Linked DNA regions of Homo sapiens. The protein of the gene in region 1 interacts with the protein of each later gene in a pairwise test. Each region holds a gene or a part of one and is shown in the gene's direction. Other genes may lie near its edges. The genes, in order: MTUS2, ZNF572, CEP57L1, TCHP, NTAQ1, ZNF410 and NDOR1.

Region 1 (3,500 bases):
TAACATTGGTGTCGATGAATGACACCAGTGAGTGATTTATCAGTGGATTATCAATGAATGATAATGTAGAAGGAACTCTTAGCTTTTCCACGATAGTATGGGAACAAGAATGGATTGCAGATATTTTCGATGAAAAATTAAGGATGGGCTCCACAAGTTTTAAAAGGATAGAACGATGCATTGAGACCAGCAAGGTGATGTTTGAGAAGTATATTTTTATGATCCCACCCATGGGTGCTAAAACCAGTTACAAATGTCTCGGATTGGGTCAGTGGAGTTTAGGACAACTTATATGGTACTTTGGTGTTTTAATTAATGATGTGGAACTAGAGGGTGATTTATATGTCCATGAGGAGGTCATTCTTAGAATGCGTGGTTAGAAGTAGAAGAGAATGGAAGGCTTGCTTTCTTATGACTCTAGATGGTGCAGTTAGAATTGAAGTATTGTGCATAGCTCTGGTCACCTTGTTTAGGAGGGACTTCAGGTTCCCTGGTGCTACACGGTGTACTTAGAGGAAAGCTGTTTGGATGGTGGGAGTTTTCAAAAGCTAATCCCACAGTTGGGAGAATCTGAGTTCTTTGACAAGGAGTAGAATAGGTTTTGGGAGGAAGGGAGCATATAGCTCTTTGTAAATACCTGAAAGGTCATCTGGTGGAAGAATTGCATCATTCTGCTGTAGAGAGGCAGAGCTTGCCAACAGAGACCCTGCCCAGATGTGTGGTGAGTTTTCTGGCCCTAGAACCAGGGGAAGCCACTTAGAAGACTCTTAAGCATCAGGTAGGTTATAAGCCTAGATCTTTACATTCCTTTCAAACTAGTACTGAACTAATTGATTTTTTTCAAGATAAAATATCAATTACTTCTAAGGCCATTATTGTTAACTTTTTGTAATAATAGATCTGAGGCATATGAAAGTTACATGTCTCACTCTGGGAAAATGCACCTCAACTAGGGGTTTGTACCATTGGTTGACCTATTTGCATATTTTATTTAATCACACACAGTCTTGTATTATGTACAAGTTTGAACTTCTGTGATCATGTTATATATTCTGTGAAAACGTTTATCTTAGTAGAAGGCCTTGGATTGAAATTTAGATCCGGACAGAAATTCGTGTTTGTGTTTACTTTGCCGCTGTCTTATGGCAGGATGAGGGAGCTGGAGTGAGGGAGACGCGTGAGGCCACATAAGGAGGAGGGAAGCTGACAGGAAACATGACTTCCTGTATATAATTTTGCCTGATAAAATTGAAGAAAGTTTTTAAATTTGCTTTTCCTGTCTTATGTGAACTTCCACGTGTTGGTTTCTGGTTTTGTTTTTCTATTCTTGTTCTTACAATAGTTTGTTTTCCTTTTGTTCTTCCTGTGTGGTGTATGATTCCATTCATGGGCAGCTTTTCTTCTTTACAGCTTCTGCTTTCTAAATGTGTCCCAGCTCTGCCACTCATGAGCTGTGTGACCTTGGGAATGTTACCTTCTCTGTGCTTTCATTTCCTTACCAGGACGTGGGAAAAAAAAAAAAGCAAGGGGATGTGAAGACCTGTCTCTGGAGGCCTGCTATAAATATTATTAAGTGTCCTAACTTAAATTAAAATTGAATATTAAAGACTTGTAATTGTGTAATTTTAATTTAAAATTAAATTTTAGGCCAGGTGCTGTGACTCATGCCTGTAATACTGGCACTTTGGGAGGCCAAGATAGGAGGATCACTTGAGGCCAGGAGTTTGAGACTAGTCTGGTCAATGTATCGAGACCCTATCTCTACAAAAAATTAAAAAATTAGCCAGATGTGGTGGTGTGCACCTGGAGTGCCAGCTGCTTGGGAGGCTGACCCAGGAGGATCTCTTGAGCCCAGGAGCTCATGGTTGTGGTGAGCTATGAACGTGCTACTGCACTCCAGCCTCGGCAACAGAATGAGATACTGTCTCAATTTTTTAAACAAATTTGTATAATGGCTGAGAAAATACTGGGCCCCTAGGAGGTTCCACCTTTCTTTCTGTCCCCTTACCAGTGAGTACCAGTTGTTTACTGACAAAGATAAAGAACATTTATGATGTAGTTCCTTAAAAATTAAAATACAACTCTTTCTAGCATGACATTGGTTTTATATTTCTTTGTCACTTTCTTGCAATCATGTTACATGTTGTGGACTTTGGTACTTTGTTTTTGTTTGTCTCTGCTGAGCAAAGTTTCTTTCTTTCTCCCAGCTTCAACAATTCAAACCGAAGAGGGCTCTTGGCTGCATATTTATACTTCTGCCCACAGAAAATTAGAGGCAGTTCCCTTCTGTGGATGGCCTATATTTATGAACTTTCTTGCCCTTCTTGACTTTGCAAGATACCCGTTTCTCATCCCAGAGAGCACAGCATTCTTTTAAACTGTGATCTTATTGATTTGCCTACATGCTTTTTGTATTTGTGCTTAGAGAACATGTGTATCTTCAAGGGAAACGCTTTTAAAATTGAATAAACAAAGACACAAGGGTTTGTTGAGAATCCCCTCTGTGTCAGGAAATGAAGACTGTGATCAGGGTATGAGCAACTTGGTTGAGGGCTATATTGGGGTCAGGCTGCACCAGGGGGTGCTACTGGCTTAGTGGAGATAAGGCTGGTAGAAGATGGAGAAGGAGAAAAAGCATGAGAGCGGGGAGGATGAGGACAGTGAGGGAGTCGTGGAAAGAACAGAAGAGCAGTGTGGTACGGAAATGCAAGCGCACATGCACATGTATGACTCTGTATTTTCCCATGATCATGCAAACATGGGGAAAGAAATGGAAAGATCTAGATGTTAATGTGTCTTGGGGTATGGGCTAGAAGAGGCAAATTTTAAAAAATGGAACAAAAACCAGCTTATAGGAAATGATCTTATGTATGTAAAAAAGTTTACATGCTTATGTATAGACGCAAAAGAAAAGAGATCTCTAAGTTGGAAACACAGAGGGCTTCAGTGAGGAGGAGCATGAGGATGGCTGCAAGGTGTCCTTGGGTTGGGTGATGGGCTGTCACGTGTTATATTATTTTGCTTTGTAACATATACATTTTATTAAATAGAGATAGGGTTTTGCTGTGTTGCCAAGGCTGACCTCAAGTGATCCTCCCACCTCAGGCTCCCAAAGCGTTGGGATTACAGGTGTGAGCTACTGTGTCCAGCCCTCATATTCTTTTTAATATATGAAACAACATATTAACAGGGATAAAGGGAAAACAAGTGGGTGGCCACGTTGCCATGTAACCTGTTTCAGGAGAAACATAACAGTAGCCTCACATGTGGTGTGCACGTGTGCTTGCACATTCTTGATGAATGAGGAGGAAAGTGTGGAAGGCTTCAAGTCTCCATTGGGGGAATTGGTGACGGGGCAGAACCTTGTTGCTGTTAAAATCCCCTATCCCCAGTGCCTAATAAAATGCACTCATAATAGTGGATGAAACAATGTCAACCTTGAATAGAATGGTTTAGTGGTGATCTGTGAGTCTACTTTAACAGAAAAGCATATCCTGTGT
Region 2 (3,595 bases), on another chromosome or scaffold:
ACTTCTCTGGCAGAGATTTGGAATATGGTTAGAATATTTGTTTATTCTTGCAGGAGATACAAGTATGAATAATTTGGAAACTGTTCACCACAATAATTCTAAGGCAGATAAACTTAAAGAGAAACCTTCAGAATGGTCTAAAAGACATAGACCACAACATTATAAGCATGAGGATGCAAAAGAAATGCCACTGACATGGGTTCAAGATGAGATTTGGTGTCATGATTCCTATGAGAGTGATGGCAAGTCAGAGAATTGGGGAAATTTTATAGCTAAAGAGGAGGAAAAACCCAATCACCAGGAATGGGACTCAGGAGAACATACCAATGCCTGTGTCCAGCAGAATTCATCCTTTGTAGACAGACCCTATAAATGTTCCGAATGTTGGAAAAGCTTCAGTAATAGTTCTCATTTGCGTACTCACCAGAGGACCCACTCAGGAGAAAAGCCTTATAAATGCTCTGAGTGTGCAAAATGTTTTTGTAACAGTTCTCACCTGATTCAGCATCTAAGAATGCACACAGGAGAGAAGCCCTACCAGTGTGGTGAATGTGGGAAAAGCTTCAGCAATACCTCCCATCTTATTATCCATGAGAGAACTCACACGGGAGAGAAACCCTACAAATGTCCCGAGTGTGGGAAGAGATTCAGCAGCAGCTCTCACCTTATTCAGCATCACAGATCACATACAGGTGAAAAACCATATGAATGTTCTGTCTGCGGAAAAGGCTTCAGTCACAGCTATGTCCTAATAGAACATCAGAGGACTCACACTGGAGAAAAACCTTATAAGTGCCCTGATTGTGGGAAGAGTTTTAGTCAGAGTTCCAGCCTCATTCGCCACCAGCGGACACACACAGGTGAGAAGCCCTACAAATGTCTTGAGTGTGAAAAAAGCTTTGGTTGTAATTCTACTCTAATAAAACATCAGAGAATACATACAGGAGAAAAGCCTTATCAATGTCCAGAATGTGGGAAGAATTTTAGTCGTAGTTCAAACCTTATTACACACCAGAAAATGCACACAGGAGAGAAATCCTATGAAAGTTCTGAATATGAGGAAAGTTTGGGTCAGAACTGCAATGTGATAGAAGAATGCAGAATCCAGTTAGGAGAGAAACCATATAGATGTTGTGAATGTGGGAAGAGTTTTGGCCTTAGCTCCCATCTCATTAGACATCAGAGAACACATACAGGAGAAAAACCTTACAGATGTTCTGAGTGCTGGAAAACTTTCAGTCAGAGTTCCACCCTGGTGATTCACCAAAGGACACATACAGGAGAGAAACCTTATAAATGTCCTGATTGTGGTGAAAGCTTCAGTCAGAGCTTTAACCTTATCAGGCACCGGAGGACCCACATAGGGGAAAAACCTTACAAATGTACCAGCTGTGAGAAATGCTTCAGCAGAAGTGCCTACCTCAGTCAGCATCGGAAAATTCACGTAGAAAAGCCTTTTGAGTCTCCCGACGTTGGGGATTTTCCTCATGAATGGACTTGGAAAAACTGTTCAGGGGAAATGCCCTTCATCTCTTCATTTTCCGTCTCAAATTCATCTTCCTGAGTCCCAAAGCCTGGTTGGTGATGGTTTTTTCTTCCTTGTTGGACCATGACAATTTAGGTATTCTGTGATTGTTGTGCTATAAAGTTTCTTTGATGTGTTTGTCAAAACATTTGGAAAAAGTCAACCTCCCAGTTTAAAGGATGGGAAGACCCCAATCACCAGGTTATTGGATCTGTCCAGTGAGAGATTCATCCACCAAGGATGAAGAAAGGAGGACTTTTAAAAATTTAAGGTAAGATAGTAATAGCTTCAAAAGAACACATACAGAGTAATCCTGAGAGTAAGCAAAGGAACCATGAGAACCGAAGCTAGAATTGCTATTGAATTACTTTATTTTCTCTTCCCTTATTGGGTAGAGATACATCATTACTGGCCTCAGGGGTTTACCCAAAGAAAGGGTATTTTTGAGCAAATAATGTGATTTCCTGGCTATTTTGTTGGGGGCTTAAGATTTTTTTTTTTCAAATGCATTTTTAGTCACTAAAAATTAACTGTCGTACCATCTAGAACTATACTGTCCAGTACCATAGCCTCTAGCCGTATGTAGCTATTTGTATTAAGATTAATTGAAATTTTAAATCCAGTTCCTCAGTCACACTAGCCACTTTCTAAGTGCTCAGTAGCTCTGTGTGACCAGCGGCTACTGTATTGGATATTATAGAAGGTTCTTTCATTCAAGATCATCATTCTTGACAGACCCATAAATATTTCCTATAAAGACTGTAGAAGTGTGTTCTGGAGGGTTTGCTCTCCAAAAAGAATTGTAATATAGAGTAGAATTGGGATAGAGTATTGAAGACACTGGGTTTAGACATTGGATATTTTAATGATTGTGTGTTCTAATTCATGTGCTGCCAACTGAGTTATCTAGTGATATGACCTCACTGTCTTGACCAAAGCCAGAATAGAAGGCAGGATTCCTGAATTCTATCTTAAAATTTGCAATGAAGAGCCTTTTCCCTAAATTATCCCATTATGTAATTCTTGGTCAGCTCAAGAACTGGGTTCTTTTTCTAATAATTAACTCACTAAATCTGAGCCAGTGTCCAAGGACAGTTTGTCATTAAGGAGTACTGAGACTTCTTAGCTTTGGTACTGACAGTTTTCTTTTGCCTCTTGACATAATTGGTATATGGATCTGATAACTGAGGTCCCATCTTCCCTACTCATTCCTATGGGAATGATGCTTTGGAAATTATTAGATATATCCTATTCCCTTCCTCCCATTTTTTTCCTGCTAGTGCAAAAGGTAGATGAGTAGGAAGATTAGGACTCCTGAGTTGCCCATGATTTCATCTAATTTTTGGATTCAGAATGTATTTTATGAATAATATGCAGAGATGCATATTAGGAATGTGAAGCCAGAATGGGTCAGTTGTAGCTGCTGCAAAGTTCTGTAGCTGATGGTCATTTAATTGCATGGGGGTTATTTTATCTTTCATGATTGTGGTGCACCTGATGCTGGCGGGGTATTTGTGTGTTTTTGTATTGTTATTTGATTACAAAAATAAAGCAAAAACTAACAAATAAAGGTATTGGAGAATTTGGGGGAAATTTTCTGCTTTCAAAAAAGGGGGAAAACATTAGGCATTATTGGCTTTTTATTTTTATTTTTTTCTTATTCATTATTATTATTTTTTTTTTTGAGACGGAGTCTCACTCTGTCGCCCAGGCTGGAGTGCAGTAGTGCGATCTTGGCTCACTGCAAGCTCTGCCTCCCGGGTTCATGCCATTCTCCTGCCTCAGCCTCCCGAGTAGCTGGGACTACAGGTGCCTGCCACCACGCCTAGCTAATTTTTTGTGTTTTTAGTAGAGATGGGGTTTCACCGTGTTAGCCAGGATGGTCTCGATCTCCTGACCTCATGATCCAGCTGCCTTGGCCTCCCAAAGTGTTGGGATTACAGGCGTGAGCCACTGCGCCCGGCCCTTATTAATTGTTTAAGAGATAAGGTCTCACACTGTCACCCAGACTGTAGTGCACTAGCACCATCATAGCTGACTGCACCCTCAGACCCCTGGGCTCAAGGGATC
Region 3 (3,206 bases), on another chromosome or scaffold:
AAAATGAAAAAACCTACAAAATTACCAAAGTCACCAAGTTTAGTTATTCTTTTCATGGTGGAAAACAGTTTCCTCAGATAATCATCATATCAGAGGTCATCATGTATCCTTAGATATCAGCATTGCCAAGACCAGGGATATAGTTATTAGTAATTTACAGGAAAGGCTCAAGGTTTCATTTACATGGGAAATGAGAACTAGACAGTGTGGTGACTGTTTTTGTTGTTAACCTTACCTCAGTGTTTTATCTCGGGTGGTCCCCAAGACCACCTTCAGGATCAGTGATTCACTGGAGGGACTCACAGAACTCAGAAAAGCTGTTAAGTTATGGTTATGGTATATTATAGCAAAAGAATATATATTAAAATCAGCAGCTGAAAAAAGGCACATAGGGCAAAGTCTGGGGGACACCAGGCACAAGCTTCCAGTTGTCCTTCACCTGTGAAGTCATGTAGACAGACCATAATTCTCTCAGCAGACAGACCATAATTCTCTCAGCAACAATGTGTGACAACATTCTTGGAGAATTGCTAACCAGGGAAGCTCCACCAAGCCTTGGTGTCCAGATTTTTTCTTGAGGGTTGGTCACGTAGGCATAGCATGACTGATAGCCCATGTGGCTGACCTTCAGTTTTCAGCCCCTCCAAAGATGGAGCTGATACTACATGGCCTAAGGACTTCACCATTAATCACATTGTTAGCTTAGACTACCTGGTATGGCCTAAGGCCCCCAAGTAAATTAAAACATTCATATCAGGCAGGATAGTCCAAGGACTTAGAGGTTATCTTGAATCTGGACACAGGACAAACATTTCTTTGGAATGTGAAAAGTTTACACAATCAAGACTTGCTATGTTGATCCTTTACTGCGGTATTGTTTTTTGTTTTCTGACCCAAAAGTGATGTGCATTGCTTACCTATCATGGCCTCTGGTTAAGGTGTCAGTCTTGCCTCCAAATTTCCTCCTAAAGCATGGAATTGGCCATAAATTTGCTTAGTGATTTTCTGATTTAGTATCATTAGTTTGATGACTAGTTTTATTATGTGAGTGTGATAAAAGGTTACGCTTAGTATACAAAGACCTTCTTATAAGTCTAGTTAATAAAACTAGGGCCATGTGTTACTACAACATAGGAGTTAACTTTGTCTGGAGGCTTTTTCAAGCCCAAGAGGTTGTCATTTCTTTATGTGTAAGATACTGCCCACATACTATACTGAAGTCAGGAACCAAGAACCGGTCAATTTACCTCAGCCAAGTTGCTTGGACTGCTTTGCTTAATAATGGGTTTGCCATATCTACTTTAATGAGATGTGTGGCATGGTGATGGTTACAAAAGTGATTTGTTAATTATTGCCTGGTAGGAAGGAGAACATGTTTTTTTTGAACCTATGCAAATAGCCACATGTCTGTGAAAAGTAAAGGGATACTTTTGTGTAATATTTAACCATGTATACCATTGTTTGTGTACTTTTTAATTGTGTCATTTTCTACAGTATTATTTTTGCATTTTCCTGACACTGTATTACTTACAAGTTATATTAATAATTTTTATTAATTTTTTTCCTGAATCCTAAAAGGTCAGTTGGAACATGAGACCATTTAAAGAATATTATTTCCTTCCAGTTTATTCAAGGGTGGCCTATTGAGAGTTTGAGATAAAGAAGAAAGGAATCTTTCCTTTCCTTCCCCCTCAGCCCGCCCCCTACCTTTCTTTTTTTTTTTTTTTTCTTTTCAGGGTCTTGTTCTGTCACCCAGGCTGGAGTGGAGTGAATGCAATCAAAGCTCACTGCAACCTCAAACTCTTGGGCTTAAGCAGTCCTCCTGCCTCTGCCTCCCAAGTAGCTGGGACTACAGGTGCATGCCACCACACCTGGCTAATTAAAAAAAAAAAAAAATTTTTTTTTTTGAGGAGACGCGGTCTCACTTTGCTGCCCAGGCTGGTCTCAAACTCTGGGCTCAAGCAATCCTTCCACCTCAGCCTCCCAAAGCTCTGGGATTACAGGCATGAGCCACTGTGCCCGGCAGAATTTTTCTGTGTCCATTAGAAATAGAAATCAGTCACATGCTATGATTTCAATATGTCACTCAAAAGCCATGTGTTGGGGCTGAACGTAGTGGCTCACGCCTATAATCCCAGCACTTTGGGAGGCAAAGGAAGGTGGATCACTTGAGGTCAGGAGTTTGAGACCAGCCTCCAACATGGTGAAACCCCGTCTCTACTAAAAAAAAAAAAAAAATTAGCTGGGTGTGGTGGCATGCACCTGTAGTCTCAGCTACTCATCAGGCTGAGGCAGGAGAATCGCTTGAACCCAGGAGACAGAGGGTGCAGTGAGCCGAGATCATGCCATTGCACTCCAGCCTGAGCCATAGAGTGAGTCTTGGTCTCAAAAAAAAAAAAAAACCTTGTGTTGGAAACCATCTCCAATGAAGCAGTGTTAGGAGATAGGGCCTAATGGATATAAATTACAGTGTCTAAGATGGATACTTTACTCTTTTCTTTTGAGAAGGGAGAGAGTATGTTATGCACTGAGAACTTTTCAGATTTCTTGCAGAGGTCATAATGTTCCAGACAAGCTGGCAGCAATCATTCCCATCCCATCACAGATCCAGGCTTATTTGTAGAATGGTTACACAAACCAAGCAAAACCTTCTGTAAAGTTTCTACCCTTTGCTCTAAAGTTACATAAAAACAATTTCCAAGTTTGTTCACTGTGTATATTTTGTTCTTTTTCATGGTAGATTTGTCTGTTGGAGTTAGATATCCCTAAATAGTGTGTTCAAATGATGTTTTTTTCTGACTGTTCAATCTCCAGCATATTTCTGAGGGAGAAAGGACATTGACTTTGGAGAAAGAAAGCTGTGTAATTACAAATGGACTATTACAAAGAACTATGCCTTCCTTTTTGAGGAGAAAAAAGATGGTTTTTAAAAATTAATACGCAGGCTGGGCGTGGTAGCTCACGCCTGTAATCCAAGTCCTTTGGGAGGCTGAGGTGGGAGGATGGCTTGAGCTCAGGAGTTTGAGACCAGCTTTGGCAACATAGTGAGACCTCATCTCTACAAAAAAAATTTAAAAATTAGCCAGGCATAGTGATGCATGCCTGTAGTTTCAGCTACTTGGGAGGCTGAGATGGGAGGATTGCTTGAGCCCCAGAGATGGAGGCCGTGTGAACCATGATCATGCCACTGCACTCCAACCTGGGAG
Region 4 (3,500 bases), on another chromosome or scaffold:
GAGGCCTTAAGGATTTAGGGAGCGTAGGATTTGCCAGGCAGTATGAATTACCTGCATGGTGATGTTTTTCCAGCTGGAAATGGAAAAAAAGATCATCAGTGCAGCCATACATTGGCATTGAAAAAGATAAAATGATGCAGAAGCATATGATAGAATTTGGAAGCCTGGTTGTAACCCCATATCCCCAGAGACAGCCACAGTTAACAGTCTGGCACATATCCTTCCATGCTGTTTCCCACTGGTATTTGTGCTTAAATATACACACACAAAGCTACTTTTATAGAAATACGTGTAAAAACATGGAGGCCAAAAGCATAGGCTTTGAAGTCAGACCTAGATGGAAATCCTGACCGTGTCTCTTGCTGAATGTATGAGCTTTGGTTTCCTCATCAATCAAGTGGGGCTACAGCAGACCTATGCTGTAGGATTTATGTGATGGATAATATATACATTATTTATACATTTATACATTTTCTTTTTGCAAAAAACAAGATTTTCTCTTACACATACTATTCTGTGACCTGCTGTCTCTGCTTTGGCTGGGGACACATTCCTGTGTCGTCATGACACATCTACCTCAGCCTCTTTTACCGACACAGCAGAGCAGAGCACGTTCCCTGTGGCTGTAGCATGATTGATTCAGGCAGGCCCCCTCTCACCCAGCATGCATGCCTATCAGCGGGAGAAGATGAAGGAGGAGAAGAGGAGGAGTCTGGAGGCCCGACGGGAAAAGCTCAGGCAGCTCATGCAGGAGGAGCAGGACCTGCTGGCCAGAGAACTGGAGGAGCTGAGGCTGAGCATGAACTTGCAGGAAAGAAGAATCCGGGAGCAGCACGGGAAGCTGAAATCAGCCAAAGAAGAGCAGAGGAAACTGGTAACTCCCCAGAGGGCTTCAGGAGGCTGTGGAGCAGGAGTGTTCCCAGCCTGAGTGTGTCGCACATGTAGGGTCATTCCTGGGTGCTCAGGTCTGATGAGATGCCAGTTAACTCCAGAGCCAGCAGGAAAAGAGCTTAGGTCCTTGTGCAGGGACTGGGTTTTGGATCAGTTAGCTGTAGTCTCTTTAGCCCCTTCAATCATTACATCTGAGTGCTTTTCCTTTCTTCCAGTTCTGTGGGTCCACAGAGATCTGGGACTAGTCTGTTTTACCTTCCAAAGTAGTTATGTGAAACAGTGAGCCCTAATCTGTGCTTTTCAGCCTGCTGTATTATTTTGAGACCCCCTAGATAGGACCTCTGTGTAGCATCAGATTTTGGCCCCCTTTTGTCATCATTGCAAGAGTCACTTGGTAGTGCCATGTGGTTCTCAGAGCTGTGCATGTGAAGCATGAGGGTTTGAACAGTGGTTGCAGTGACGGTGTGAAGGGAGGCACTCATAGCCTGAGCTGACTTCCACTGTGTGTCATCCAAAATGTGAATGGATTTGAAAAATGACATCAGGCTTTCCATTTTGTGTTTTCTTGATAGATTGCTGAACAACTTTTGTACGAACACTGGAAAAAGAACAACCCGAAACTTCGAGAGGTGAAAATCAGAGATCTCCATTGATTTATCTAAGTAGATGAAATCATGTTTCCAGACACTTTTTTTTTTGAACACGTATCTTGTACCGGGTTGAAACAGAGGAGGGAACCTTGAGCCACCTGAAAAGAGCGCCAGGCAGAAGATCTGGCACAGGCTGCGCTGAGCGGCTCATTCGGTTGTTGAACAAATGTTGATTGAACCTCCGCTGCCTGGTCTGCCAGGTGCGGGCATGGAGATTAGACATGGTTTCTGCTCATTAGCTTGTGTCCAGCATGGGAGCTCATTACAGGGCAGGATGCAGGGTGCTGGGCCAGCCTGAGAGGATGAGCATGGGCCAGCGCACTCAACTCTGGAGGGGTTGGGGAGGCTTCCCAGAGGAGTTCCTGGGGTGGAAGAGTTTGAAGGGATGTATGTGTGTAGAGGTGAGGAAAGGATGTTCTAGGTTGATGTGACTGTGAGAACCAGGCTTGAGACTCGAGAACAGAGCGAGCCCTGGGAGCTGAAAGTGTCTGGGTGAGGCTAGGATGTCAGATAGTGAGGGAGAACCCCAAGAAATGACGCTGGCGAGGCAGAGGGTGCCAGACATCGGAAGAGCTTGTGTGACCTTCCTCCAAAGGGGCTGGGGGCAGCATACAGGATCCCAGCTGCATTTCAGAGAGACTCCTCTGGTAGCAATGTGCCCGCCGACAGGGAGGGGTGCTGCGACAGCCCAGCCGGGGGTTGGTGAAGGCCTGAACTGGGCTGGCAGGGGAGGGGGTGGCCTCTTGGCTTGGTGGCCTTGTTCAGTGGAGATTTGGCTGCAGGGAGATCATCCCTCACTGTTATTCATTTATTTTCAACTTACAGTTTTTGTATACATTTGGTGCCTTCGTGTTATTCGTAGTTACATTTAGAAATCGCCAGGCACTAAATAATGGAACATCTGGTGCTTTTGTGCAGTTTGCACTAATCTGTGGGAGGACTCCTTAGCCCTGTTGGCTTCGGTGGAATCATCCAGAGCCGTTAAATCAGAAAAGTTTATTCAGAACATTCAAGTTAATTGCCTATGTTCACAGCTGTAAGTTGGGAAAGATTATTTTAAAACTTTTTTATAGAGACAGGGTCTCCCTGTGTTGCTCAGGCTGGTCTCAAACCTGGGCTCAAGTGATCCTCCCACCTCAGCCTCCCGAGTAGCTGAGACTACAGGTGGGCGCCACCATATCCAGCTAATTTTATAAACAGTTTCCCAAACAAAAGATTTGGATTGAATGTTGTGATCCATTTTCTAATCCAGGAGATTGTCTGCGCTCAAATCTCTTACTAACAATGCTAAACTTGTTGCACCTACTGGTGCATCACTTGATACAGGGAGTACGTAGTCCATCTGCTTTGCAGAGGAAACTTCGGGGAGCCAGGCACAGGGTTGAGTCTTCTCACTCAGCTGTCTCCCAGGGCCTGGCATGCAGTACATCAACCCAAGGTGGCCTTTGAAATTGTATTTCCATTTCAGCGTCCAGCCCAACCCTAGGGCTAGTGGGAGGGAAGTCTCTGTTACTTTGTACCAGCTCAAAAGATTGGTGTAGGAGTGCCTGGTCCTTTGGTCTTCTGATTGACATGCATTCACACTATACATGTTGAAGTCACCCCACGCTCTCTACTAGACGCCTGTGCCACTGAGTCCCCATGAAGCGAAGTCATGGCCACGTTCCCGCAGGTGGCACAGAGGGCAGGAGCACACTGTCCCCACAGTGCCCATCTGTCTGGTGAGGAAATTCACATCGTCCCCCTTCCATCCTCAGATGGAGCTGGACCTTCACCAGAAGCATGTCGTAAACTCTTGGGAAATGCAGAAAGAAGAAAAAAAACAGGTGTGGTATGTGGCTCTGGGAATAGCCGCGTATTCTGCTGTGCGAGACTGTTCACGTCTTTGCATTCGTTTACCGTTTTCAGCATCAGTGACTCCAGTTAAGGAGTGTAGTGTACTCTTTTCTTAGTTTACTT
Region 5 (3,500 bases), on another chromosome or scaffold:
AAAGACTCCAGTGGGAATTGGAGAGAGCCTCCGCCGCCATATCCCTGCATTGAGACTGGAGGTGAGCCAAGATGCCTTCTCAGATGGGGGTTCTGATTGATCACATACACATCAGCATTTTTCCTTAACGGAGGACAAAAGTCAGGTTGTTCTTTGAATAAAACTCCATGAGTGAATCCCAGCACTTTGGGAGGCCGAGGTGGGCGGATCACGAGGTCAGGAGATAGACACCATCCTGGCTAACACGGTGAAACCCTGTCTCTACTAAAAATACAAAAAATTAGCCAGGTGTGGTGACAGGCACCTGTAGTCCCAGCTACTAGGGAGGCTGAGGCAGGAGAATGGTGCGAACCTGGGAGGCAGAGCTTGCAGTGAGCTGAGATCGGGCCACTGCATTCCAGCCTGGGTGACAGAGTGAGACTCCATCTCAAAAAAAAAAAAAAACAAAAAACAAAAAACAAAAAATTCCATGAATGATAAGGAGGTCATAGGAAATACTACTTCTGTGTGTGTATTAGATTCAGAAATGAAGGCACAGAGAATAGGACTGGAAGGCATAAGAACATGTGGGAGAGGAAGGGTGTTAAGGATCAGAACCAGGGCACCTGCAAACTGCTGGATTATTGGATGTAGCTACTGCGGGGACACTGAACATCAGGATACTCGCATGCTTGTGTCATTTAACAGCGGGACTAGTAGCACCTTGCCATGGTAGGGTTTTGTGCTGTGGTGAAAGAAATCCCCATTGCATCCTTATGATGTGTGAAATGTCACTTTGGCTATATAATAAAATCTGCATTAGAGGGAGGTGAGCGCTAGCAGGTTTTATTGTACCACTTGTCTCATTTATGTGCTTTTAGGCATCAATCCAGTTGATAATTTCCTGACATTTAAGAAGATAAAGGGTCCTTCACCCTATTACTATTGTTTGGCATTCATATGAGTTTGAAGTATTATTTACGTTTGTAAGTAATTCACAACATTCCCACTTAGGGGTGAGATCATCCCAACACCTGGATAATACAGTCTGTGTGAAAGTGCTCTGTGAGCTCTGCAGCATGTCAGAAAAATAGGGCAGTAGTGTTAGTACTTCAACAAGGGTCTGAGCGTGGTGGCTTATGCCTGTAATCCCAGCACTTTGGGAGGCTGAGGTGGGTGGACCACCTGAGGTCAGGAGTTCGAGACTAGCCTGACCAATGTGGTGAAACTCCGTCTCTACTAAAAATACAAAAATTAGCCGGGTGTGGTGGTGTGTGCCTGAAGTCCCAGCTCCTTGGGAGACTGAGACAGGAGAATTACTTGAACCGGGTAATTGCTTGAACCGGGAGGCAGAGGTTGCAGTGAGCCGAGATCGCACCACTGCACTCCAGCCTGAGTGACAAGAGCAAGATTCCATCTCAAAAAAAAAAAAAGAAAAAGAAAAAAATAGTTTAACGGAAGAAAGTAAAATATACATTTGGCATATTTGAGGGGACTGAACACTAAGAGAGGGTTCAAACTCTGATTTTTGAGGCTCTCTATGAAAAGCTCTCATAATTTAAAAAATTATATTGGAATTGCTTATCAGTACACAGAGCTGCTTCCTGGCCTCAGTGTGAGAACTGGGGAAGCTCCCTGGTAAGGAGAGGGCTCGAGGGGTCTGCCTTAGCATCTATGGCAACCTGCTCTACAGGGCCTGGTCTGGCCACAGTGTGCCTTTAGCAGCTACCTGTTTCCCCTTGAGATGTGAGCACCTAAGACAGAACCTAGTGCATCGCAGGCATTTAGTGAACCCCTTGTCAGCCCTGGTCCAACTGGGGCAATTCCTTTTGTTTTGATGACTACTAGTCATTGGATGCTGTTTTGTGCTGGGCTTTTGCCAGCCCAATTACTATATGGGCTGCCGAGGTGAGCACTGCCAGCCCAATTTTCTTTCTTTCTTTTTTTTTTGTTGAGACTCTTGTTGCCCAGGCTGGAGTGCAGTGGCACGATCCCAGCTCACTGCAACCTCCATCTCCTGAGTTCAAGCAATTTTCATGCCTCAGCCTCTGGATTAGTTGGGATTACAGGCATACACCATCACACCTGGCTAGTTTTTTTTTTTTTTTGAGACGGAGTCTCACTCTGTCACCCACGCTGGAGTGCAGTGGTGCGATGTCAGCTCACTGCAAGCTCCGCCTCCCGGGTTCATGCCATTCTCCTGCCTCAGCCTCCTGAGTAGCTGGGACTACAGGCGCCCGCCACCACACCCGGCTAATTTTTTTTTTGTATTTTTAGTAGAGATGGGGTCTTACCGTGTTAGCCAGGATGGTCTCGATCTCCTGACCTCGTGATCTGCCCGCCTCGGCCTCCCAAAGTGCTGGGATTACAGGCGTGAGCCACCGCGCCGGCCACACCTGGTTAGTTTTTATATTTTTAGTAGACATGAGGTTTTGCCATGTGGGCTAGGCTGGTCTTGAACTCTTGGCCTCAGGTGATCCTTCTGCCTTGGCCTCCCAAAGTGCTGGGATTACAGGGGTGAGCCACTGTGCCTGGCCCATATTAACCAAAAATTAGCCAGGCGTGGTGGTGCACGCCTGTAATCCCAGCTACTCAGGAGGCTGAGGCAGGAGAATTGCTTGAATCTGGGAGGTGGAGGTCGCAATGAGCCAAAATTGCACCACTGCACTCTAGCCTGGGTGACAGAGGGAGACTCTGTCTCAAAAAAAAGAAAACAGACTTTAAATTAATGCATGTTTTAGATACATGCATTATTGGGTATGTTGGATTTAGTTATGGAATTGACTCTTTTTTTTTTTTAATCAAGGTAGGGTCTCAGTATATTGCTCCTACCTTGGCCTCCCAAAATACTGAGATTATAGGCATGAGCCACCACGCTGGCCAGGATTAACTCCTTTTTTTTTTTTTTTTTTTTTTTTTTTGAGACGGAGTCTTGCTCTATTGCCCAGGCTGGAGTGCAGTGGCACAATCTTGGCTTGCTACAACCTCTGCCTCCTGGATTCAAGCGATTCTCCTGCCTCAGCCTCCCAAGTAGCTTGGATTCTAGGCACCCACTACCACACCTGGCTAGTTTTTGTATTTTTAGTAGAGACGGGGTTTCACCACGTTGGCCAGGCTGGTCTCGAACTCCTGACCTCAAGTGATCCACCCCTCTTAGCTTCCCAAAGTGCTGGGATTATAGGCGTGAGCCACCACGCCTGGCTGCTTTTCGTCTTTCTGAGTAAAGGTTGAGAGTAGCGTTCCTTTCTTCTTTTTTTTTTTTTTTTAGACAAAGCCTTGCTCTGTTGCCCAGGCTGGAGTGAAGTGGCGTGATCTTGGCTCATTACACCCTCCAACTCCCAGGTTCAAGCAATTCTCCTGTCTCAGCCTCCTAAGTAGCTGGAATTAGAGAGGTGTGCCACCATACCCAGCTAATTTTTGTATTTTTAGTAGAGATGGGGTTTCACCATGTTGGCCAGGCTGTTCTCTTAACTTCTGACCTCAAGTGATCTGCCCACCTCGGCCTCCCAAAGTGCTGGGAT
Region 6 (3,500 bases), on another chromosome or scaffold:
TTTTAGTAGTAATATAATTATCCCTTGTTATCTGTGGTGTATAGGTTCCAGGACCCCACAGATACCAAAATCCACAAATACTCAAGTCTCTTACATAAAATGGCATGGTATTTGCATATAACCTACACATATCCTCCCATATGCTTTAAATCATCTCTAGATTACTGATAGTACCTAATACAACGTAAATGCTATGTGAATAGTTATGCTATATTGGTTATTTGTATTTTTTATTGCTATATTGTTATTTTTTATTTATTTATTTTTTTAGATGGAGTCTCGCTCTGTTGCCCAGGCTGGAGTGCAGTGGTCCACGATCTTGGCTCAATGAAACTTCCACCTCCTGGGTTCAAGTGATGCTCCTGCCTCAGCCTCCCAAGTAGCTGAGATTACAGGCATGTGCCTGGCTAATTTTTATATTTTTAGTAGAGACAGGGTTTCACCATGTTGGCCAGGTCTTGGAACTCCTGACCTCAAGTGATCTACCTGCCTTGGCCTCCCAAAGTACTAGGATTACAGGCATGAGCCACTGCGCCTGGCCTGTTATTTTTTATTTTTATTTTTTCTGAATATTTTTTATCTGCTTGGTTGAATCAATGGATGTGGATGGCCAACTATATATTCATAGTTTTACAGTTTTCTCTACTGTCCGACTCCACAACATTTCATCATCCCAAAAAGGATCCCCATATCCAGGAGATGATTAAAAAAAGAAAAAGAAGTCCCATTATTAGTATCATTGACCATGTCTCTCTTTCTCCAGCCCCTGGCAACCATTAATCTGCTTTCTGTGTCTGGATTTGCCTGTTCTGGACATTTCATATGGCCTTTTTTTTTTTTTTTTTTTTTTTTTTTTCCCCTAAACGGAGTCTTGCTGTCTCCCAGGCTGGAGTGCAGTGGCGTGATGTCGGCTCACTGCAAGCTCTGCCTCCTCGGTTCACGCCATTCTTCTGCCTCAGCGTACCGAGTAGCTGGGACTACAGGCGCCCGCCACCACGCCCGGCTACCTTTTTGTATTTTTAGTAGAGATGGGGTTTCACCGTGTTAGCCAGGATGGTCTTGATCTCCTGACCTCGTGATCCTCCCGCCTCAGCCTCCCAAAGTGCCTGGATTACAGGAGTAAGCCACCGTGCCCGGCCTTTTTTTTTTTTTTTTTTTTTTTTTTTTTTGACAGAGTCTCACTCTGGCTCAGGCTAGAGTGCAGTGGCATGATCTTGGCTCACTGCAACTTCCACCTCCTGGGTTCAAGCAATTCTCCTGCCTCAACCTCCCAAGCAGCTGGGATTATATGCGCCCGCCACCACGCCTAGCTAATTTTTGTAGAGATGCGGTTTCACTATGTTGGCCGGGCTGGTCTTGATCTCCTGACCTCAAGTAATCTGCCCGCCTCGGCCTCCCAAAGTGCTGGGATTACATGTGTGAACCACTGCACCTGGCTAAAATAAATTTATTTTAGATTCAGGGGGTACATGTGCAGGTTTGTTACAAGGGTATATTCCAAGATGCTGAAGTTTGGGCTACTAATGACCCTGTTGACCAAGCAGTGAACATAGTACCTGATAGGTAGTTTTTCAGCCCTTGCCCCGTAGCCGCTTTTGGAATCCCCAGTGTTTATTGTTCCCATCTTTGTGTCCATAAGTACCCAGTGTTTAGCTCCCGCTTATAAGTGAGAACATGGTGTTTGATTTTCTGTTTCTGTGTTAATTTGCTTAAGATAATGGCCTCCAGCTGCATCCATGTTGCTGCAGAGGACATGATTTTGTTCTTTTTTATGGCTGCATAGTATTTCATGGTGTGTATGTGCCACATTTTCTGTATCGTATTTACCATTGATGGGCACCTGGGTTGATTCCATGTCTTTGCTGTTGTGAATAGTGCTGCATTGAACATGTGAGGGCAAGTGTCTTTTTGGTAGAGCAGTTTATTTTCCTTTGGGTAGATAGCCAGTAATGGGATTGCTGGTTCAAATGGTGATTCAGTTTTTAGTTCTAAGCTTTGTAATATTCCACCCTGTTTCTATTGTATAGGTTTTTTTTTTTTTTTTTTTTTTTTTGCTATGCAGGACTACTGCAGTATCTATAGCTTTTTAGTCAGTCTCTGTGATGAATATTTACGTTGTTTCCAGTATTTAGCCATTTAAAATAATGTTGCCGTGATGAATAACCTTGTGCACAGAGTATTTCACATTTTGCTGCTGTAATTTTGGGACATATTCCTAGAAGTGGGATTCCTAGGTCAAAGGGCAAGTGCATCTACAATTTTTCTAGATCTGGTCAGATTCCCCCAAAGAGGTTTTTGTATTTTGCATTCCCAGCAAAATACAATCAGCAATGATGATTGCTGTACCATGTGTTTGTCAATTGTGAATTTGTTCCTAGCATTTAGAAATTGGGAGATTCTACTTAAAAATCCTTATTTCCAGTGTCTTAAAAAAAAATCAGAGAATCTGCCTTAATCTACCCATGGCAACAGTTGGCTAGAGCTGAATAACAGCTGCCCCTTTTCTAGGTACTCTCTAGGTTACTGCAGCCCCCACTTGGCCATTTTACTTACTTTTGCTACCTATCAGTCTCCTATAGACATGAGTTTTTGACCCCTGCTCTAAGTATGGTTTTCTGGGTAGGTAGAATGGAGACGGAGAGTTTGGGACTTGAAGACATAGAGGACAATTTAGATTATTATGTTGTAAGAGCCACCAGTGTGAATGTTGATGACCCTAAAGAGGGTGGCAGGGAATATGACAAGGGGATATTAGGAACACAGGATTGAAATCCTTGAGGAAAGCACATGTCCTAGAGGTCCATGGAAGACTAACTGAAAAAGAAGGCATATTTTTTGTGGTTGCCATGGTCCTATACCAAAGAGGTTTTGTGAAGGCAGCATTACAGAAGGTCTGGAAAGGACCAGCAGCTGGGAGCAGGGAGTGTGCTAAAGCCCTCCTGGTGTACTCTTCCTGCCTTCCCCCATATACTGAAGTTTGAGAGGCTGGGAAGGTGCGGAATGGGAAAAGGAGCAGCTGCTTATGTTCAGTTTAACATTCTCTGGGTTTCTCCATCTAGGTCTTGAGTTCATTCTCTTCCTGTCCTTTTGGCTTCCTTGTTTAACCTGGTCCCTGTTTCAGGAGAGAAGCCTCATCAGTGCCAAGTCTGTGGGAAGACCTTCTCTCAGAGTGGAAGCAGGAATGTGCATATGAGAAAGCATCACCTGCAGCTGGGAGCAGCTGGGAGTCAAGAGCAGGAGCAAACTGGTGAGGAGGGTGGGCATAGTGGAACGCTGTACTACTTCTAGGGTTCCAAGAGCCAAATCACTGTCCTGCCTGCTTATCTGGAAATTTTCTGATTCTGTTTTGGGTAGATAGACCTGGTCTCATTTGATGGGCTGATGGTTTCCAAACATAGCTATACAGTAGAATCATCTGCAACCTTTTAAAATTTATATACTTTTTGTTGCTTGTCCGCCCACCAATAAAACAAAGCAATCTGATAAATGAGATAATTTGC
Region 7 (3,500 bases), on another chromosome or scaffold:
TGTGATCACAGTTACTCCAGAGGCTGAGGCGGGAGGAGCTCTTGAACTTGGGAGGTTAAAGCTGCAGTGAGCTGTGATCACACCACTACACTCCAGCCTGGGCGACAGAGCAAGACCCTGTCTCAAAAAAAAAAAGACGGGAGAAACTTGACATGTTTTTTTTGTTGTTGTTTGTTGTTGTTGTTGTTGGTTTGTTTTGAGACGGAGTCTCGCTCTGTCGCCCAGGCTGGAGTACAGTGGCGTTGATCCCAGCTCACTGCAAGCACTGCCTCCCGGGTTCGCGCCATTCTCCCGCCTCAGCCTCCCAAGTAGATGGGACTACAGGCGCCGCCACCACGCCCAGCTAATTTTTTGTATTTTTTTAGTAGAGATCGGGTTTCACCGTGTTAGCCAGGATGATCTCAATCTCCTGACCTCGTGATCCACCTGCCTCAGCCTCCCAAAGTGGTGGGATTACAGGCGTGAGCCACCACACCCGGCCAAAACTTGGCATGTTTAATTGCTGGCAGGGGAGAGACAGGAGAAAGAGGCTGAAGACTGAGTAGGTATGGCAGGGGATGTGCAGCGGCTTGGGGGAGAGCTGAACATAGGTCGAGGGGTCTCAGATAGAGTGGGATGGAAGAGAAGGGGTTTCAGAGTGGAGCACAGGCACGGGAGGGGAATGGTGGGATAGGGAAGCCCCAGAGCATGGGAGAGGAGAGGGACTGAGGCTGGGCTGGGCATTCAGTCAGCCAGTGGCAGGAAGCTGGTGCTAATGCCGGGATTCAGGTCAACGAGGAAACGAAGAGTCCCAAGTGTGGGCACCCACAGAGAAGACCAGGAGTTGGAGGGGGCAGCTAATGCCCACAGCGGGAACTGGGAGCTCCTTGAAGAGGCTGTGGACCCAGGGCCCATGGCCTCAGAGGCAGGGGCGAGTCTTAGTGGCTATCCATAGCTAAACCAGAGGACCCTGGCTCTCCATCCACAGCGAAACAGGAAGACCCTGGCTCCTTGCTGAGGATGCTGTAGGTGAGGCAGGTGCCCCCAGCAGCAGACAGGAGAAAACAGAGGAACCACAGTGAAAGGCCAAGTGACCAGGTCCCTGCCTGTCTGGTGAAGAAACCCATGGGGCGCTGGGCGCGCTGGCCCAAGCCTGTAATCCCAACACTTTGGGAGGCCGAGGCGGGTGGATCACCTGAGGTCAGGAGTTTGAGACCAGCCTGGCCAACATGACGAAACCCCATCTCTACTAAAAATACAAAAAATTAGCTGGGTGTATTGGTGCATGCCTGTAATCTCAGCTACTCAGGAGGCTGAGGCAGGAGAATCACTTGAACCCAGGAAGTGGAGGTTGCAGTGAGCCGAGATCACACCACTGCACTCCAGCCTGGGTGAAAACATGCACCAGAAAGAACCACACCCCACCCGAGGAAAGACCCGCATAACAGGCAGAGACGGGCACAGGCTGAAGCAGCCAAGGATGTTACCCCCACGGGGCAAAGCTGGAGACTCAGGAACAGGAAACAGTTTTTTCTCTTTCTCTTTTTCTTTTTCTTTCTGGAGACAGAGCTCTTGCTCTGTTGCCCAGGCTGGAGTGCAGTGGCAGCCATCAACGGCTCACTGCCCCCTGACCTTCCAGACTCAGGTGATCCTCCCACCTCAGCCTCCTGGGTAGCAGGGACTGCAGGTGCGCACCACCACATGCAACTAATTTTTTTTTTTTTTTGTATTTTTTGTAGAGATGGGGTCTCAAGCTTCTGGGCTCAAGCAGTCTGCCTGCCTCATCCTCCCAAAGTGCTAGGTTTGCAGGTGTGAGCCACCACACCTGGCCAGAAATAGTTCTTTAAATGGACATGAAAAAACTTTAAAAGATTAGAAGACGCTGGGCACAGTGGCTCAAGCCTGGAATCCCAGCGCTTTGAGAAGCCAAGGTGTGGGAGGATCGCTTGAGCCCAGGAGTTTGAGACCAGCCTGGGCAACATGACGAAACCCAGTCTCTACAAACAAAATAATAATAAATTAGCTGGGCGTGGTGACACACACCTGTAATCCCCACTACTTGGGAGGCTGAGGTTGGAGGATCGCTTGAGCCCAGAAGGTCAAGGCTGCAGTGAGCTGTGATTTCAAGACTGCATTCCAGCTTGGATGACAGAATGAGACCCTGTCTCAACAACAAAAAAGGCCGGGCACGACGGCTCACGCCTGTAATACCAACACTTTGGGAGGCCGAGGTGGGTGGGTCACTTGAGGTTAGGAGTTCGAGACCAGCTTGGCCAACATGGTGAAACCCTGTCTCTACTAAAAATACAAAAATTAGCCGGGCATGGTGGCACGCACCTGTAATCCCAGCTACTTGGGAGGCTGAGGCAGGAGAATCACTTGAACCTGGGAGGCGGAGGTTGCGGTGAGCTGAGGTCGCACCATTGCACTCCAGCCTGGGCTACAGAGTGAGACTCCATCTCAAAAAAAGATGAGAAATCCTTCTAGAAAGTATGACAAAAAGCAAGATAGAAAATGGAAGGAAGCAGATACCAAAATTCGAAGATAATTCCAGTGGCCTCAGAATGAGAAGACAATGGTGGAGAGGAAGTTATCCAGGAAAGTAATGATGTCTAGAGCGGGGTCTGCGGCCAGAGAGCCCCATGCCCAGGAAGGGCCCTGCTGAGAATGAAAGGGCTACCCCCGGGGCATGTCACTGTGGGTTTAGCCTCTGGGGACAGAGTGCCCTACACACCCCAAGGGCAGCAAGTGGGGCCCTGGCTTTTCAGTGGTGGTGCCAAGCCCAGGACAGACCCAGCCGCATGCCAGTCGAGTGAGGGAAAAGTCACAAGAATGTTCTCTCCAGAACCCTTTTCTCGGGAAGGAGGAAGTTCACCAAACGGAGCAGGGAAGAGAGTCTTTTGGGATTCAGGAAGCAAGGGTGTCTCAACAGCAGGGCGCTAGGGAGGGTCTCGGGGGCAAGAGGCTGGGTACATTTGCTCGCATAGCGTGGCCCAGAGAGGCAGCTGATGAGGCAGTGAGGTCCCGGGAGGCCAGGGGTGGTCCAGGGCCAGGGTCAGAGCTGTGGGCTGACAAGGCCAGGGCCTCCCTGTCTGCTAGCCTCCATGCTTGGCCACGGGAAGGGGAGGTGGGTGGGCGGCGAAGACCACGCACACAGGCCACCTGGGATCCAGGTAGGGAGGGGGCAGTAGGTTCCTTGGGGGGGCCTCTGATCAAGCTGGGAGGACACCGTGGAAGGCACGGTGTGGAACCAGAGGATCTGGACCCTGTTGGCTCGAGGTCCTGCAGCCACGGAAGGAGGGGGATGTGTCTCAGCGACACTGGAACCTCAGAGGGCCGAGTGTGAGAGCCCTTGGGATGGACCTCAGAGGTCTGAGTATAGGAGCCTCTGGGACAGACCAACTCAGGGAGTGGAGGCCCACGCTCTGGCTGGGAAATGACAGGTGGAGGTGAGGGACCCCTGGGGCGGTGGACAGTTTGGAGACCAAGTGCAGAGCTGCTCCTGGCAGCTCAGAGCCTGG

The links.
Region 2: the proteins of MTUS2 (region 1) and ZNF572 interact in binary tests that used the Homo sapiens proteins (3 or more experiments, as listed by UniProt).
Region 3: the proteins of MTUS2 (region 1) and CEP57L1 interact in binary tests that used the Homo sapiens proteins (3 or more experiments, as listed by UniProt).
Region 4: the proteins of MTUS2 (region 1) and TCHP interact in binary tests that used the Homo sapiens proteins (3 or more experiments, as listed by UniProt).
Region 5: the proteins of MTUS2 (region 1) and NTAQ1 interact in binary tests that used the Homo sapiens proteins (3 or more experiments, as listed by UniProt).
Region 6: the proteins of MTUS2 (region 1) and ZNF410 interact in binary tests that used the Homo sapiens proteins (3 or more experiments, as listed by UniProt).
Region 7: the proteins of MTUS2 (region 1) and NDOR1 interact in binary tests that used the Homo sapiens proteins (3 or more experiments, as listed by UniProt).

The regions. Positions count from the first base shown.
Region 1 is NC_000013.11:29,019,339-29,022,838, forward strand, and holds part of MTUS2 (microtubule-associated tumor suppressor candidate 2), read left to right. Parts: intron 1-3,500. UniProt on the Homo sapiens protein: Binds microtubules. Together with MAPRE1 may target the microtubule depolymerase KIF2C to the plus-end of microtubules. May regulate the dynamics of microtubules at their growing distal tip.
Region 2 is NC_000008.11:124,976,295-124,979,889, forward strand, and holds the end of ZNF572 (zinc finger protein 572), read left to right. Parts: intron 1-53; coding exon 54-1,564; 3' UTR 1,565-3,095; downstream 3,096-3,595. UniProt on the Homo sapiens protein: May be involved in transcriptional regulation.
Region 3 is NC_000006.12:109,171,713-109,174,918, forward strand, and holds the end of CEP57L1 (centrosomal protein CEP57L1), read left to right. Parts: 3' UTR 1-2,706; downstream 2,707-3,206. UniProt on the Homo sapiens protein: Centrosomal protein which may be required for microtubule attachment to centrosomes.
Region 4 is NC_000012.12:109,903,274-109,906,773, forward strand, and holds part of TCHP (trichoplein keratin filament-binding protein), read left to right. Parts: intron 1-647; exon of another isoform or gene 648-663; coding exon 664-874; intron 875-1,463; coding exon 1,464-1,520; intron 1,521-1,555; exon of another isoform or gene 1,556-1,741; intron 1,742-3,298; coding exon 3,299-3,367; intron 3,368-3,500. UniProt on the Homo sapiens protein: Tumor suppressor which has the ability to inhibit cell growth and be pro-apoptotic during cell stress. Inhibits cell growth in bladder and prostate cancer cells by a down-regulation of HSPB1 by inhibiting its phosphorylation.
Region 5 is NC_000008.11:123,437,274-123,440,773, forward strand, and holds part of NTAQ1 (protein N-terminal glutamine amidohydrolase), read left to right. Parts: coding exon 1-61; intron 62-860; coding exon of another isoform or gene 861-943; exon of another isoform or gene 944-1,056; intron 1,057-3,500. UniProt on the Homo sapiens protein: Mediates the side-chain deamidation of N-terminal glutamine residues to glutamate, an important step in N-end rule pathway of protein degradation.
Region 6 is NC_000014.9:73,917,859-73,921,358, forward strand, and holds part of ZNF410 (zinc finger protein 410), read left to right. Parts: intron 1-3,121; coding exon 3,122-3,247; intron 3,248-3,500. UniProt on the Homo sapiens protein: Transcription factor that binds to the sequence motif 5'-CATCCCATAATA-3', and is specifically required to silence expression of fetal hemoglobin in adult erythroid cells.
Region 7 is NC_000009.12:137,208,700-137,212,199, forward strand, and holds part of NDOR1 (NADPH-dependent diflavin oxidoreductase 1), read left to right. Parts: intron 1-3,500. UniProt on the Homo sapiens protein: NADPH-dependent reductase which is a central component of the cytosolic iron-sulfur (Fe-S) protein assembly (CIA) machinery.